2 separate regions of the Homo sapiens genome follow, and region 2 is linked to region 1. Evidence: fine-mapped expression QTL. A gene starts in region 1. The other region holds a variant in brackets. All regions are shown on one strand. Distances are between the middles of the regions.

Region 1 (2,913 bases):
TTACACAGCGTCTAAGGACTCTTCAAAGGGCAAAGCTGAAGCTGCCAGGACTTTGTATGGCTTATTTCTGGAACTGGCACAGTGTGACTTCTGACGCATTCTTTTGGTTAAAGAGAGTCACAGAGTCAGTCAAAGTCAACGTGGGAGGGAAATATACAAGCCTGGAATACTGGGAAGTTTAGTTCATTGGGGGCCATCTTTGAAGACTAGCTACCACCAGTCGCTAATTGTTCTTTTCTGGAATTGAATAATAATACATTATAACTTTGTCAGAAACTTTCATGCCTTCCAATGAGTAAAGTTTTATAAAGTTCTATTTATTCAATATGTATACAATTCATATACAGTCATGCATAATATAAGAATGTTCCAGTCAACGATGTACTGCATATACAACTGTGGTCTCATAAGATTACAATACTGTACGTTTACTGCACCTTCCCTATGTTTAGATATGTTTACATACACAAATACCATTGTGTTACCATTGCATATGGTATTCAGGACAGTGACATGCCACACAGGCCTGTAGCCTAGGAGAAATAGGCTATACCATACAGCCTAGGTGTGTAGTAGACTATATTGTCTAGATTTGTGTAAGAACCCTCCATGATGTTCACACAAAGACGAGATTGCCTAAAGACACATTTCTCAGAGTGTATCCCCATCGTTAAACCATGCATGATTGTATGTATTTTCCTTGTGGATGTAAAACTATTTTCTATATTACTCACAATGTATATGAGATAATTCGTGGTATTAAAGTATATTAACTATATTGCTAATTTAAAAAATAACAAATTACTAGACCTATATGAGTTCCTCTTTGTAAAGCTGTCAGAAGAATGTGCACCTAATGTTAAACTCGGATATCTCTGGGAATTGGGGTTACGGCTAATAGTTCATTTTCTTCAGAGATATTCTGATTTATTTTCAACCTTCACGTATTGAAAGCCAGCAATGATTTTGTATCCTGTTTGGGAGAAATTTTCTGCAGGTCGTTAGTATTATATTCTGCTGGAATATCTTTAGCAGTCATTTTCATTTCGCAGAATTTTCCTTTCTCATCTATAGACTTCGGTGAAACGGATATGAAACTTTACTTTTCGTATTGATGATTCACAGCAGTCACCTAAACTCTGTAGTTAAAGCAGAAGCTCCTCAAAGATCCCTCAGGGTAGGGCGGTGGCCGCGACGCCTTCTGGGGACTGTGGTCCGGAAAGCCGGCGGGGGGCCCGGGAGAGCCCCGGGAAAGGCGGCCCGGGGGCCTTTCTGCGCATGTGCTGTTCCTGTTTTTTACCTGGACGCCCTTCCGGTTCGCCAGGCTCTTCCGGGTGAGGGTCCTGCAGCCCGTGAATCCCTGGTCCCGCCGAGACTTGGACCTGGTGCGAACTGGAGGCGAAGCGGGTGCACCCACAACCTATAGGAAGGGCTGGCGGCGAGCTCTGAGCACTCGGGCGTCGGAGGGAACGGTGGGGCCGGGCGGAGCGGGCCTCGGGTCTGCGGAGGGTGGACGCGCGCTCTCCCTGTCTTTGGAGGGAGGGTTTCCTGTGGTCGGGAGGCGAGGCAGCCAGGGCAGGATTGGGCTCCTGACCTGCAGGCCACGGGCGAGCTCTCTCTAGGGCCCTGATTTGCCCGAAGAAGGCGCTTGGTGAAGGTGAAAGGTTTACGCATCCAAGTAGCTAGAACCTCTTTCCAGAACTTCTGCTGATGCACTTAGTCTTGCAGCCATTGATTATTATAGCTCAGCAAAGTTCAGTTCAACTTTCGGAAGAAGGATGTGAGCTGGAATGGGCAGGGTCAAGATTTGACAGGAAAAGACACTTCACTGGAGGTATCTGCGAGAGTCCTGGGTTGGAGGGAAGGAGTACTGGTTATAAATAAGGAAATGATGTCTTCATCACTTCCTAAACACATACATGTCATTCCCTACCATCTCCACCCTCTGTTTATTCAGAGCTGCACCAACCATGTTCATCACCTCACCTGGGATTTACTGAGTTTACCCCTTACAGAGCTACACGATAGGGGTAAAGGAAAGACTAAAAACCAATTTATCTTATATTAAAATTACGACTTAGTAAATATTTTTTTCAGTAATGCAGTTTGCTAGTGACAGATCCAATAACTGAATTCTGGTCCTTTGAGTACCAGGTCAGGGCTTTTGTCATCTACCACATTTACGTTACCTACCACAAGAAGTTTCTTAGTAAAAGGTCCTCTTGTGAAACTGCAGCTAAGGGAAACCAAACTGTCAAAAAGACAAACACCTTAAAGCACTTTCATTCATTCTCTCTGGATTCTGTCATCTCAAGTGGCTAAACACATTAGTAGGAAAACAGGTAAGTGACATAATATCATTTTCCTATTCCAAGAAATCTTTTAATCCTAGAGTCCATTTTAATGCCAAAATAGTGTTCCAGGCTTTGTATATACTAACTTTCGTTGACCTAGTCTCCTATTAATTGGACTCAGACGTTTTCAATTTTTTTCAAAGGAGGCATAGATTGACAGTAATTCAGTAGAAAACATTTGTTGACACTCACTCAGTAAGAAAAGCTCTATGAGACCATTCTAGAACTATAAATGGACAAGTGAACGTTTCCTCAACATGTTGCTTCCTGAACCAGACTGGTCAAAGGGCCATGTTTTTAAATGGGTGTGTGGCTTTGTAGGTAATTGTAGAGCTGCTGTGTGAGCCAAATCGCTCATGATTCCATTCGCCATTCTTCCTTACCCAGCTCTGCTTTCAACACTCTTGGCCCTTTCTCAAGAGAACATGAAAATGAAAAAATTTCAGGTAAGTTGCTCAGGGATTTACTTCTCACATTATACAGTGAATTTCAAGAGGTTTAGAGTAGTTTGCAGATGAAACGAAATGTATAAAATTCAGCATCAGAGAAGAGTATTCGA
Region 2 (2,913 bases), 160 kb after region 1:
TGGGATTAGCCTTTGTCCCCTTTCTGTTTATCCTTCCTCCCAGAGTCCCGTCTGTAATGCCCTCAGGGTCATTACAGAAAATTCTGTCCCACATCCATTTAAGTTTCAAGCAGTGAAGCGTCTTGAACCTCCCCAAGAAAATTATTCTGAAGCCCCGTTGTCCAGGAAACTTCTGTTCAGGGCCTCGTTTTTTTTCCTTCTTTAAAATCTCTCCCCACTCCTTCATTATGCCCCCTTGTACCAAACGCCACACTCTCCCTCCCCTCCCGTGTGTTTACACCATGCCCCATCTCTGCAAAACCTCATCTGAAAGCCCCTGGTAGTCGTCACTTGGCAAAGCTGCATGGATTTAGCTCCTTTAATCTTTTCTGGTAAATTAATCCCCCAAGCGCCTTCATTACTTATGCTGCTCTTCCCCGAATTCCCTTCAATTTGCCGACGCCTTTGCAGTTCTGCTGAGCCCAGCACCAAACAAGATGTCCTACACTGTGAGGCTGTTTTGCCTGGGGGGACTGTCACTCGGCATTTCTTTGGTGCTTCCCTCCAAAAATCTCAAAATACTCGTCCAGCTTCCAGCTACCACAGTTGTCTCTTGTGCCCAGTTCTGGGCCCCCCTTCACCCTGTGCTAATACACCACGAGGACTTTCGTGTGGGAGGGACGCCGGGAGTCATTCTTCCAGATGGACAGTGTTGGAGGGACCATGACTCCTCCGAAAGTCTAAGCTGAATTTGGGGTAGGGGGTGTGCATGCCTGTGTTTCTGGAGCAAGGGGCCATGTGTTTGCATTTTCTTTTTGGGAAATGTTCATCAAGTGATACCACGGGTTGGAGAAATACCAGTCTGGTCCCAGGCCTCTCATTTTATCAGTAAGGAAACTGAGGTCCAGAAAGGGGACACATCTCAGCCCAAGTCCCACAGCTCTGTACTAGCAAGACCTAGATTAAAATGAACGTTTGTAGGGATAGAATTTTGTCCCTGTTTGTAGGTGAACTGGCTGAAATGTAGACCAAGGAGTTCCCTGAGTGGGCTGGGGCACTGTTGGTCCTTCGTCACTTGGTAGCCGCCCTACCTTCTTTAGCCCAGTAGTTACCACAGCTCCAAAGACCCCATGAAGTCAGCAGCCATGAGCCCCTCCCCACAGACCAGTAAGGGAATACTGTCCAAAGGTGCAGGGCACTTCCATCCGTCTTTCCATGCAGGGCCACCCCCCTCTACTTCACCCCAGAGGCTCAGACGAGCCCTCCCCATCATTCCGCTAGGATCCCCATCATCCCACTAGGATCTCCATCATCCCGCTAGGATCTCCTTCATCCCACTGGGATCTCCTTCATCCCGCTAGGATCCCATCATCATCCCACTAGGATCCCCATCATTCCACTAGGATCCCATCGTCATCCCGCTAGGATCCCATCGTCATCCCGCTAGGATCCCATCGTCATCCCGCTA[G/A]GATCCCATCATCATCCCGCTAGGATCCCATCATCCCGCTAGGATCCCCATCATCCCGCTAGGATCCCATCATCCTGCTAGGATCCCCATCATCCCGCTAGGGTCCCATCATCCCGCTAGGATCCGCATCATCCTGCTAGGATCTGGCTTGTATTGCCCCCAGGCGCTCTGGCAGCCATCACTGCTTCCCTGGTTTCCCCAGGTCTCAGGCCATCTGTGTGGGATCACTTTATACCTTCCATGCTTTTTCTCTGGGCTGCAGACAGTTAGCAGGTCTCAGTAAGAACTCACTACTACAGTGGAAGATCTTGTGTGGTTGGCATTGGGCTGGCCAAGGCAGCCCAGGACCCGGCCTCCCACTCTCTCTCCCTGTTGCTTTCAGGTCTCCATTTGTCCACATCTGAGAAAATCTTCCGTTTCCAGGACACAGGGCTGCTCCTGCGGGTACTTGGGAGCCTCTTCCTTGGCGGGATTCTCGCCTTTGGTTTGGGCTTCTCTGAGTTCCTCCTGGTCTCCAGAACCTCCAGCCTCACTCTCTCCATTGCCGGCATTTTTAAGGTACAGACTCGGGCGTGATGCCAGTCCTGTCTTAGAGAGGGAGCCCCCAGGGGTTTCTCACCAGCAGCTTCAGTCCCAGCTCCTGCACCCCAGGGCCCTGCAGAGAAGAGAAGGAAGTGCCCCATTAGGTGCCAGGCACTTTGCTGAGTGCTGTGCTGGCCCCTCCTTCTGCCTTGACCACAGCCCTGTGAGAGGGTATGATCACTCCCATCCCACAGACAGGGACACAGATGGAGAGCCGCCCCTCCCCAAGGGCACAGCAGGGGCCTCAAAGCCAGCTCTGACTCTGCTAGGCCTGGAATGCATTCACATTTTACCTTGACTGCCAACTCTGGCACTGGGCAGTGGCCTGGAGCCACAGGTTGAACAGCCCCTATCCAGACTCATCAGGAAAGAGTTCCGTGATTGACTGGCGGTGTCCTCCAAGGCCATGGCCAGGGCTAGTGAGACCCTGAGAAAGCACCCCTGTGGCCAGCCTTGCTGTACCTCTGCCTCGCAGGCCTGTCCTTCCCTCTCATACCTCTTCTCACTTCTCCTTCTCCCTCCCACACATTTCAACAGTCCTCCCTGTTCAGGGGCAGGGAGGGACTTTTCTCTTTGGCCAGGCACACACCAGTGTTGAAGCAGTGTTGCCTAAACCCAGAAATGCAGGCCTGTCCAAGGGTCTTCTGGTGGCCAGCCGCATGCTGAGGCATGGCTGTGGTTCTTGGATGAACGGCCTTGCCAGTCCTGTTTGGAGTCTCTGTTTATAGAGAGCCCCGGGACCAGTTGTGTCTTCAGTCCGGGGTAACACAGCATTCTCACACATAGGCTCAGGGCTCTCTTCTGTGGCTGCCTTCTGGGGCAGCCGTCCTTTATCCTTGTGGATAAGGCGCGATCTGGACACCCTGGTCCCCAGCCTGGGATCT

What was found. PIP is the estimated chance that this variant, and not a neighbour inherited with it, causes the effect. A credible set is the group of variants that fine-mapping cannot tell apart.
Region 2: its variant is the best candidate, but not a certain one, in a credible set for the expression of ZNF334 in esophagus muscle (GTEx, PIP 0.62).

Annotation. Positions count from the first base shown.
Region 1 is chr20:46,511,969-46,514,881 of GRCh38, reverse strand. It overlaps ZNF334 (zinc finger protein 334), which reads left to right and starts at 1,323. Exons shown (of 5, transcript NM_001353824.2): 1 at 1,323-2,342; 2 at 2,742-2,800. The coding sequence starts at 2,780. RefSeq lists a silencer at 1,049-1,283.
Region 2 is chr20:46,351,143-46,354,055 of GRCh38, reverse strand. SLC35H1 (solute carrier family 35 member H1) reads left to right here. Exons shown (of 10, transcript NM_015945.12): 8 at 1,830-2,005. Among named protein-coding and RNA genes, the nearest start is that of SLC35H1, 12 kb to the left of the region's middle. RefSeq lists enhancers at 1,594-2,184, 2,422-2,481, 2,492-2,631, 2,185-2,776 and a silencer at 2,892-2,913. The variant G/A (reference allele first, on the strand shown) is at 1,448.